3 linked regions of the Homo sapiens genome follow. The protein of the gene in region 1 purifies or fractionates together with the protein of each later gene. This does not show direct contact. Each region holds a gene or a part of one and is shown on either strand. Other genes may lie near its edges. The genes, in order: TEAD4, FN1 and VASP.

Region 1 (3,650 bases):
TGGGACTTTTCTGAGCCTTAGGTCTGCACTGTGACTCTGCAGGAGTTGCCCTGTGCTGTGTGGACCACACCTGGGTGCTTTTCCCATGGAGCCCCTCCTCCACAGGGCCTGAGAGCCCCCTGAAACTCACTCTGGGGGTGCTGCTGTGGCCTGTTAGCATTCACTAGCTAGGCGAGGCCTCGGGCTCCAGCCTCTCCTCCCAGTGGAGGCCCTGCCCGGTCCTACCCCCACCCCCACACCACAGGGCCCCGGGTGCACCTGGGGCCGTGCTGATTCCATGCCTTTTGCCTCCTCAGTTTTGGCAAGGAGCTTTGCCAGGCCAAGCCGGAACGTCCCATGAGTGAGTATGGCCTCTGGTTTCTCTTGCCAGTTGCTCCCTGAACTGAACTTGAACCCATAAACTCATGGCATTAAGCCTGGGCCCCAGGGTGTGCTGGGGCCGCTGCTGGGGTCGGCCTTTCAGGATGGCTCTGAGCTCAGGGATTGGGCTCTTCTACTGTCAGCCATCACTGGGCTCATCTGTGATGTCTACACCCTAGGGTGGTATTTGCCAAAACTCCAGTCTGTCCAGGGTATAGGCAGGGCCAGAGCTGGGGTCCCCCAGGGGAGGAGGCTGGGAAGCAGACCTCTGGCTGGCCTGGGAGGAGGAGAGGGAGGGGTGGATTTCTTCAGCAGACACGCTGTGTCTGTGGACCCGCCACGAAACCCAGGGGAGTCGGCAGGGGCGGGAGTAGGAGGCCAAGGCCCATCGGGACCACTGAAATCCAGACCACCAGGACCTACCACACAGACCACTGGACCCAGTGCAGGGATCCGGGGCGGTGGCCTGCCCGAGGCTGACACCTCCCCTCCTCTCTCTCCCGCAGTGTGAAGCCTTTCTCTCAGCAAACCTATGCTGTCCAGCCTCCGCTGCCTCTGCCAGGTGGGTGGGCGCTGCGTGGCCCCCTTTCTATCGCAGCCATGTGGCTCCTGCCTCTGGGTCCAGGCCCCCGGCAGCCGAACGCCTGCGTGTCCCTGTTAGATGCTGCCCCGTCATGCACACTGACCACACGTCCTAGTCCCTGGCCACACCCCATTCCTTTCCCCCAGCATGCACACCTCAGCCGTGTGCCAAGCCCCTTCATGCCCCTCGGGTTGCCTTGCTCCTGTCCCCTCAAAGCTGTGCTCAGGGCTTGTGGGGCACGTGCAGTTCCAAGGGCAGTGCCCGTGCCCTGGCGGCTGCCCCACTTGGCCGGCCTTGTTACTGCAGTGTGCCTCACACACCTGGTCCTGGGAGGGCCGAGGGGTGTCTAGCTCACCAGCCTGGAGCCCCTCCCGAGAAGAGGGACCCTTGTGGGAGAAGACCTGGTGGAGGCAGCCAGCGGTGCTGACAGGAGCCCCCACCCCGCCCTCTCACTGACAGGCTCTGCTCTGTCCTCGTCTCTTTCTCAGGAGGGGCCCTCACCACCTCCCACTCTGTAGGACAAGACCAGCTCCTCACTCTTAAACTGCCCTTTCTGGTGTGGAGTCTGCCTGCCCGGCCCCTTGGCTTTCCCTGCCACCAAGAGCAGCCCTGCTGCCTTCTGTCCCCCAGGTCCTGAAGGCTGCTTTCTCTCGTTCACACATCAAAACAAAGTCACAGCGTCAGGTCCCGTCCACCCTCTGTCTCATGCCAGTCTTCTGTCCACACTGACCATGTCTTCACTCCAGGCCTGCTGGCTTTTGCCTGCGTTCCTGCAGCAGCCTCTCCACCGGCTCGCTGTCCCGTCTCACCTCCTCTCGTCACCCTGTCACTCACCAGAGCTTCAGTCTCACGGTGTTGCTTCCAGGTTTATGGTGCCTTCCTGGCCCCCTGGTGCCTTCAGGACACGATCTAAACTACAGTAGGACTGGAGTAGGTTCATCTGTTAGCAACGCTGGATTGAGGGGCTCTTCTGGGCCAGGCCCTGTTCTGGGAGCGGGGGAGACACATGTGATGCAAACAGGAAACGTCCCCGTCTCTCCGGGATGATGCCATATTGTAATAGTGGATTCATCTGGTTATTTCCCCGACTGGAACAGAAGTTGCTTGAGGGCAGGAACTTAACAGTGCCTGTTCTGGAAGCCTCTCGGTCCTGCAGGGCCCCAGCTGCCCTCCAGAATCCAGTCTTGCTCGGCGGTTCCATGCAGAGTGCTGAGTGGCCCGAGTTGTACCAGGCGAGCCCCTCCCCACCAGGGCAGCTCCAGGATGCCCTGGCCCAAGCCTGGCACTCCCTCCACCACCTCTGCTAGGAGGTCCATTTAGGGAGACAGGCGGTCCCCCCAGGCAGCACGGGTCTGTCCGAGGAGGCCTGGGGTCCTTGCAGAGGGTGCGGGCAGGGCGGGTGTCCGTGACCAGGTTCCATGTGCCTTTCTCACTTTGTGCAGGGTTTGAGTCTCCTGCAGGGCCCGCCCCATCGCCCTCTGCGCCCCCGGCACCCCCATGGCAGGGCCGCAGCGTGGCCAGCTCCAAGCTCTGGATGTTGGAGTTCTCTGCCTTCCTGGAGCAGCAGCAGGACCCGGACACGGTAGGTCCTGGCCTCTGCCTGTCCAGCTCCCTGGTCACCCCCTCTCCCTCTGTTTCTGCTTCCGGCAGTCTTGCCCCACTCCATGCTGGGGCTTAATTCAAGTTCCCTGTTCCTTTCCGATCTTCCCTTCTGCCCTTCCCCCCACTCCTCCTTTCCTCCTTCACGTCACCCCTCTTCCCTCTTTCCCTCCTCCCTGGCTTCCTTTCCGTGTCCCAGCGCCCAGTCAGCGTCACGCTCCTCCCTCCCTGTCCTGTGTTCCTCCTCCCCTCCTAACCCAACCGACCCTTAGTCCAAGGTTGCTCTGGTCCCAGCCCCACCCCTACACTGTCCCAGCCTCTCTCTGGTTCTGAGAAGCGGGCAGGAAGCTGAGGAGTCTCCTGTGTCTGCTCCATATCCTATGGGATACCAGCCTGTCCCCTTCGGTGTCCAGTGTCCTGGGTGACCAGCGTCACCTGCAAAGGTCAGAGGGGGACCTGGAGGAGGCCAAGGTGACAGGATGCCAGGGCCCTTCTCACTCTGACATCTTCAAACTTCTTTTTTTTTTTTTTTTTCTTGAGACAGAGCCTCACTCTGTCACCCAGGCTGGGAGTGCAGTGGCATGATCTCAGCTTACTGCAACTTCCACTTCCTGAGTTCAAGCGACTCTCCCGCCTTAGCCTCCGGAGTAGCTGGGATTACAGGTGCCTGCCACCACACCTGGCTAATTTTTGTATTTTTAGTAGAGACTGGGTTTCACCATGTTGTCCAGGCTGGTCTTGAACTCCTGACCTCAAGTGATCCACCCACTTCGGCCTCCCAAAGTGCTGGGATTACCGGTGTGAGCCGCCGCACCCGGCTCAGACTTCTTTTTAGCTGAGGAACCCATGAACCAAATAGACCTTTACTTAGAAGTCCAGGATGTAAAACAAAAGGAGTAGACTTTTACCATCTCTATTTTACTCATGGGGAAACTATGGCCCAGAAAGGCCAAGCGGCTTGCACCAGGTCACGTGGTGGGCACGCAGAGCCAGGGTTGTCTGTCTGACCGTCTGGCCTGTGCTCCGTCTCCCTCAGACCCACTCTCTCCACAGTACAACAAGCACCTGTTCGTGCACATTGGCCAGTCCAGCCCAAGCTACAGCGACC
Region 2 (2,854 bases), on another chromosome or scaffold:
ATATGTGCTTAAACAGAGAAATATGTCTAAAATATTTAAATTCTAATATAAAAAAGAAAGTGACTGTATTATTTAGGGCTGCATTTTAGTTGTAAGAAAAAAGTCCAACTCAAGCAAAAATGGCCCACACAATGGAACAGTCCCAGGACCCACCGGCTTCAGGGGCTGCTCCAGCAATGGCGCCCGGACTCCCTCTTGCTCCGCGTGCCTTCCCATGCACTGGCTTCGTGCTTCAGCGGGGTCTCTGCTGATGGTGCCATTGATGACTGACCTCCATGAGCTTGCTTTACCCCCTGCCAGCTTAAGAACAGTAGTGAAAGAGAACATGTGTGTCCTCCCATTTCCAGTAAAAACTTCAGGCAGGAGCCTCACTGGCTCAGCTTGGTCCCGTTTCCATCTCCCATGCCATCTCCGGCCAGGTGACAGGCTACCATGTCACTGCCTAGGGAAGTTTAGGAAGAGAGTGGCAAAGTGGTGCATTAGAAAGAACATGGCCAGGTCACCCCACCTCCTGGGCGGCAGGCCCAACTCCACCAGTGGTCCACTGTGTGACTTCCCTGCTCCCTCTAAGCAAGTCACTCCTCTCCTCTGGGTCTCTGTTTCCTTACCTATAAAATGAGAACGTTTCTTCATGTGATCTCAAGTCCCTTTTAAAATCGCTAGGATTCTTTGAAAACCTTTTCTATCATCTAGTGCAGAGAACTTGTTGAGGAAGTTGGGATTGGAATGAGCCTCAGCAGATGGGCAAGGTTTGAATAGGAAGAGAAGAGACATTTCAGGAGAAAGAAACAACATAGAGAGACAGATGTAGGTATAAGATATGGTAATAAGCCAAAATGTATTAAGAGTTATAAATGCATGAAATCATCATCAAAGCTTGCTTAGTGATTAACTGCTTATATTTTGCCAGTGCATATGATGTGACATTTTTCTTTAACTCAAACACTAAATTACGATGTCCTCAGGTTATCATAAACCCCATTTGACTTCATGCCTCTACTCTCTCAGGGCTGGCGCTGTGACAACTGCCGCAGACCTGGGGGTGAACCCAGTCCCGAAGGCACTACTGGCCAGTCCTACAACCAGTATTCTCAGAGATACCATCAGAGAACAAACACTGTAAGTGCATTAGCAGCACAAGTGTGTTCCCTCATACTAGACAGTCTCTTTCTACAGGTATCTTTCTTCAGAATGAACCAAGTGTTTTAATTAATTAAAAAAAAAAACAACTCATAAATGACTTAAGTGAAACACTGTATTCCATAATATAGTTTAAGTTATAATTTATGTAACTCTTGAACATCTCCTATTGCCCAGTATGCTGCTAGGTTCTTGAAACTAGGAAGAAATATTATCCTATCTATAAGCAGCTGTCATGAGTCCCCACCTCCCCGCATTTTTTTTTCTGTACACTTTACAGTATTTGCCACTAATTTTTTTTTCCTTCTTCCTTTTTAACAGAATGTTAATTGCCCAATTGAGTGCTTCATGCCTTTAGATGTACAGGCTGACAGAGAAGATTCCCGAGAGTAAATCATCTTTCCAATCCAGAGGAACAAGCATGTCTCTCTGCCAAGATCCATCTAAACTGGAGTGATGTTAGCAGACCCAGCTTAGAGTTCTTCTTTCTTTCTTAAGCCCTTTGCTCTGGAGGAAGTTCTCCAGCTTCAGCTCAACTCACAGCTTCTCCAAGCATCACCCTGGGAGTTTCCTGAGGGTTTTCTCATAAATGAGGGCTGCACATTGCCTGTTCTGCTTCGAAGTATTCAATACCGCTCAGTATTTTAAATGAAGTGATTCTAAGATTTGGTTTGGGATCAATAGGAAAGCATATGCAGCCAACCAAGATGCAAATGTTTTGAAATGATATGACCAAAATTTTAAGTAGGAAAGTCACCCAAACACTTCTGCTTTCACTTAAGTGTCTGGCCCGCAATACTGTAGGAACAAGCATGATCTTGTTACTGTGATATTTTAAATATCCACAGTACTCACTTTTTCCAAATGATCCTAGTAATTGCCTAGAAATATCTTTCTCTTACCTGTTATTTATCAATTTTTCCCAGTATTTTTATACGGAAAAAATTGTATTGAAAACACTTAGTATGCAGTTGATAAGAGGAATTTGGTATAATTATGGTGGGTGATTATTTTTTATACTGTATGTGCCAAAGCTTTACTACTGTGGAAAGACAACTGTTTTAATAAAAGATTTACATTCCACAACTTGAAGTTCATCTATTTGATATAAGACACCTTCGGGGGAAATAATTCCTGTGAATATTCTTTTTCAATTCAGCAAACATTTGAAAATCTATGATGTGCAAGTCTAATTGTTGATTTCAGTACAAGATTTTCTAAATCAGTTGCTACAAAAACTGATTGGTTTTTGTCACTTCATCTCTTCACTAATGGAGATAGCTTTACACTTTCTGCTTTAATAGATTTAAGTGGACCCCAATATTTATTAAAATTGCTAGTTTACCGTTCAGAAGTATAATAGAAATAATCTTTAGTTGCTCTTTTCTAACCATTGTAATTCTTCCCTTCTTCCCTCCACCTTTCCTTCATTGAATAAACCTCTGTTCAAAGAGATTGCCTGCAAGGGAAATAAAAATGACTAAGATATTAAAAGTATTTGAATAGTATAATATGGAGGAGTTTTATCTTAGGGAAACCCCATGGTATGATAACCCCCATCTAACATGTCTTACTTTGGGTCAGCTGACACTTTTGGCATGGCTTGATAAACTCCCAGCTAAACAGTTTGTTTACTCCTGATCTGTAAAGGTCATTTCTTTTTCAATTTAACATTGAGGAAACAAACTTTGGGATTAAATTTGACATTCAGGCC
Region 3 (3,650 bases), on another chromosome or scaffold:
GTGTTTGCCTGTCTCTCCTGATCTGATTTTCTCTCCTGATCTGTCTCCCCCGTCTCCTTCTGTCCACGTGGCTCCTGCCTCCCTCTGTGTCACTCTCTTCCTTCCACACACTGTCTTTGTCCCTTGGAATCTCCCAGGAGAGACCCAGATAAGAAGGTGACCGGCCCCTCTCCCTTTTCCTCCCGCCTGCAGCGAGACGGTCATCTGTTCCAGCCGGGCCACTGTGATGCTTTATGATGATGGCAACAAGCGATGGCTCCCTGCTGGCACGGGTCCCCAGGCCTTCAGCCGCGTCCAGATCTACCACAACCCCACGGCCAATTCCTTTCGCGTCGTGGGCCGGAAGATGCAGCCCGACCAGCAGGTGCAGCTTCCCGCCGGCCCCCTCTGTGGGCTGAACCCCTACCCGCCCCACCCCTGCGCCCGCCGCCCCTCACCCCCCTTTCCCCTCCCACCAGGTGGTCATCAACTGTGCCATCGTCCGGGGTGTCAAGTATAACCAGGCCACCCCCAACTTCCATCAGTGGCGCGACGCTCGCCAGGTCTGGGGCCTCAACTTCGGCAGCAAGGAGGATGCGGCCCAGTTTGCCGCCGGCATGGCCAGTGCCCTAGAGGCGTTGGAAGGTCAGAAATGGCGGCGGGCAAAGGGGACCAGTGAATGCGGCTGTGTGGCCTGGGGCTGCCGCTTTACCCTGCTGGGACTTGGTTTACTCGTCGGTAAAATAGAGCGAATTCATTGTTATCATGGAAAATTATCACTAGCATTTTGTGCATTCCAGTGTGACCGTGTGCACCTATGTGTAAAATGCACCATTGGCCCGGCGCCGTGGCTCATGCCTGTAATCTCAGCACTTTGGGAGGCCGAGGCACACGGATTACCTGAGGTCAGGAGTTTCACCGTGCCCAACATGGTGAAATTGCGTCTCTATTAAAATTCAAAAATTAGCTGGGCGTGGTGGTGCGCGCCTGTAATCCCAGCTATTCGGGATGCTGAGGGACGAGAAGTGTTTGAACCCAGGAGATAGAGGTTGCAGTGAGCCGAGATCAGGCCACTGCACTTCAGCCTGGCGACAGAGCAAGATTCCGTCTCAGAAAGAAAACAAACACAAAAAAAATGCACGATTACTCAGGGATCAGTACTCCATGAACTTTACACAGGCACACTCCCGGGAAACCACCTCCCAGATCAAGACATAGGTAGGTCCTGCCCCAGAAACAGGATCTCGCTCTGTTGCCCAGGCTGGTGTGCACTGGCACAATCATGGCTCTCTGCAGCCTTCACCTCCTGGGCTCAAGTGATCCTCTTGCCTCAGCCTCCTAAGTAGCTGGGAATACAGGTGTGCACCACCATACTTGGCTCTTTTTTTGTTTTGTTTTTTGAGACAGAGTCTTGCTCTGTCACCCAGGCTGGAGTGCAGTGGTGCAACCTCAGCTCACTGCAACCTCCACCTCCCGGGTTCGCGTGATTCTCGTGCCTCAGCCTCCTGAGTAGCTGGGATTACAGGCATGTGCCACCATGCCCAAGCTATTTTTTTGTATTTTGTTTTTATTTTTATTTTTTTGAGACAGAGTCTCACTCTGTTGCCCAGGCTGGAGTGCAGTGGCACGATATTGCCTCACTGCAACCTCCGCCTCCCGGGTTCAAGCGATTCTCCTGCCCTAGCCTCCCGAGTAGCTGGGACTATAGGCGTGAGCCACCACACCCGGGTAATTTTTTGTATCTTTAGTAGAGACAAGGTTTCACCGTGTTAGCCAGGATGGTCTCTATCTCCTGACCTTGTGATCCGCCCGCCTAGGCCTCCCAGAGTGCTGGGATTACAGGCATGAGACACCATGCCCGGCCCTTGTATTTTAGTAGAGAAGGGGTTTCACCATATTGGCCAGGCTGGTTTCAAACTCCTGGCCTCAAGTGATCCACCTGCCTCTGCCTCCCAAAGTGCTGGGATTATAAGTGTGAGCCACCATGTCTGGCCACCTGGATCATTTCAAATTTTTTTTTTTTTTTTACTTTTTGTGGAGATGGTCTACAGGCTGGTCTTGAACTCCTGGGCTCAAGTGATCCTCCCACTTCAGCCTCCTAAAGTGCTGGGATTACAGGCATGAGCCACTACACCCAGCCCAGTTGCTTTTTTTTTTTTTTTTTGGAGACGGAGTCTCGCTCTGTCCCCAGGTTGGAGTGCAGTGGCGCGATCTCCGCTCGCTGCAAGCTCTGCCTCCCGGGTAAATGCCATTCTCCTGCCTCAGCCTCCCGAGTAGCTGGGACTACAGGCACCCGCCACCACATCCAGCTAATTTTTTGTATTTTTAGTAGAGACGGGATTTCACCGTGTTAGCCAGGATGGTCTCGATCTCCTGACCTCGTGATCCGCCCGCCTCGGCCTCCGAAAGTGCTGGGATTACAGGCGTGAGCCACTGCGCCCGGCCTTTTTTTTTTTTTTTTTTTTTTTTTTTTAATATGGAGTCTCACTCTGTCTCTCAGGCTGGAGTGCAGTGGTGTGATCTCAGTTCACTGCAACCTCCGCCTCCTGAGTTTAAGCAATTCTGCCTCAGCCTCCTGAGTAGATGGAACTATAGGTGTGCACCAACATGCCTGTCTAATTTTTGTAGTTTTAGTAGAGACGGGGTTTCGCAGTGTTGGCCAGGCTGGTCTCGAACTCCTGACCTCAGGTGATCCACTCGCCTCGGCCTCCCAGAGTGCTGAGATTACAGGCGCGAGTCACGCGCCCAGCCCAGTTGCTATTTCTTAAACCTTAACGTGCACATGAATCACCTGGGGATCTGGTTAAAGTGCAGGCTCTGGTGCAGGTGGGCTGGGCGGACTGAGACTCCACATTCTCACAAGTGCCCTGGTGATACCCAGGCTGCTGGTCTGCGGACGTGACTGAGTAGTGAGGTTTTAGGTGACTGCCGTGCATCTGGCCTGGAATCACTGCTGTAGAACTGAAAGTCACCAAATGCAGGGGTGTTTGCTTCGTGGGACAACTTCTGTGCTAGTGCGGAAGGGGCTTGCTCCTCTGGGGCACACAGAAAAATACAGTGGGCTTCAGTTGAGTCATCTGTAAATTGGGGCTAATTCATTGTTAATTCGTAGCCAATTCAATTCAGGTGCTAGGGCCAGAGGCCTGGAGGTAGGTGAGGAAGAAGCTCTTTACCTTTCCAGGTTCTTAGGTAAGGTCCAAGTGGCTGTAACAGTGGTTAAGAGCTAGCCAGGGGCCAGGTGCGGTGGCTCACGCCTGTAATCTCAGCACTTTGGGAGGCTGAGGCAAGTGGATCACTTGAGGTCAGGAGTTCGAGACCAGCCTAGCCAACATGGTGAAATCCCATCTCTATTAAAAATACAAAAATTAGCCAGGCATGGTGGCAGGCGCCTGTAATCCCAGCTACTCAGGAGGCTGAGGCAGGAGAATCTCTTGAACCCGGGAGGTGGAGGCTGTGGTGAGCCGTGATTGCACTGCTGCACTCCAGCCTGGGTGACAGAGTGAGACTCTGTCTCGAAACAAACCAACAGTGGTTAAGAGCCTGGCTGCTGGAATCAGCCTGAATTCAAGTCTTGTTCCTGCACATTCCACCCTGGAGAAATCTGGGGCAAGTGACTGTTCCCCGGGCCTTAGCTTCTCCTGTCACTGGGACATCACAACAGCACCTACCTT

What was found.
Region 2: the proteins of TEAD4 (region 1) and FN1 purify together in Homo sapiens (affinity purification with mass spectrometry; 3 studies listed by BioGRID and IntAct, with this or other methods). This does not show direct contact.
Region 3: the proteins of TEAD4 (region 1) and VASP purify together in Homo sapiens (affinity purification with mass spectrometry; 3 studies listed by BioGRID and IntAct, with this or other methods). This does not show direct contact.

What each region holds. Positions count from the first base shown.
Region 1 is NC_000012.12:3,018,249-3,021,898, forward strand, and holds part of TEAD4 (transcriptional enhancer factor TEF-3), read left to right. Parts: intron 1-296; coding exon 297-340; intron 341-866; coding exon 867-922; intron 923-2,385; coding exon 2,386-2,525; intron 2,526-3,595; coding exon 3,596-3,650. UniProt on the Homo sapiens protein: Transcription factor which plays a key role in the Hippo signaling pathway, a pathway involved in organ size control and tumor suppression by restricting proliferation and promoting apoptosis.
Region 2 is NC_000002.12:215,360,234-215,363,087, reverse strand, and holds the end of FN1 (fibronectin isoform 1 precursor), read left to right. Parts: exon of another isoform or gene 1-435; coding exon of another isoform or gene 436-442; intron 443-1,008; coding exon 1,009-1,119; intron 1,120-1,461; coding exon 1,462-1,533; 3' UTR 1,534-2,223; downstream 2,224-2,854. Other genes in the region: bifunctional purine biosynthesis protein ATIC, read right to left, coding at 436-442. UniProt on the Homo sapiens protein: Fibronectins bind cell surfaces and various compounds including collagen, fibrin, heparin, DNA, and actin. Fibronectins are involved in cell adhesion, cell motility, opsonization, wound healing, and maintenance of cell shape.
Region 3 is NC_000019.10:45,517,471-45,521,120, forward strand, and holds part of VASP (vasodilator-stimulated phosphoprotein), read left to right. Parts: intron 1-192; coding exon 193-364; intron 365-458; coding exon 459-624; intron 625-3,479; exon of another isoform or gene 3,480-3,650. UniProt on the Homo sapiens protein: Ena/VASP proteins are actin-associated proteins involved in a range of processes dependent on cytoskeleton remodeling and cell polarity such as axon guidance, lamellipodial and filopodial dynamics, platelet activation and cell migration.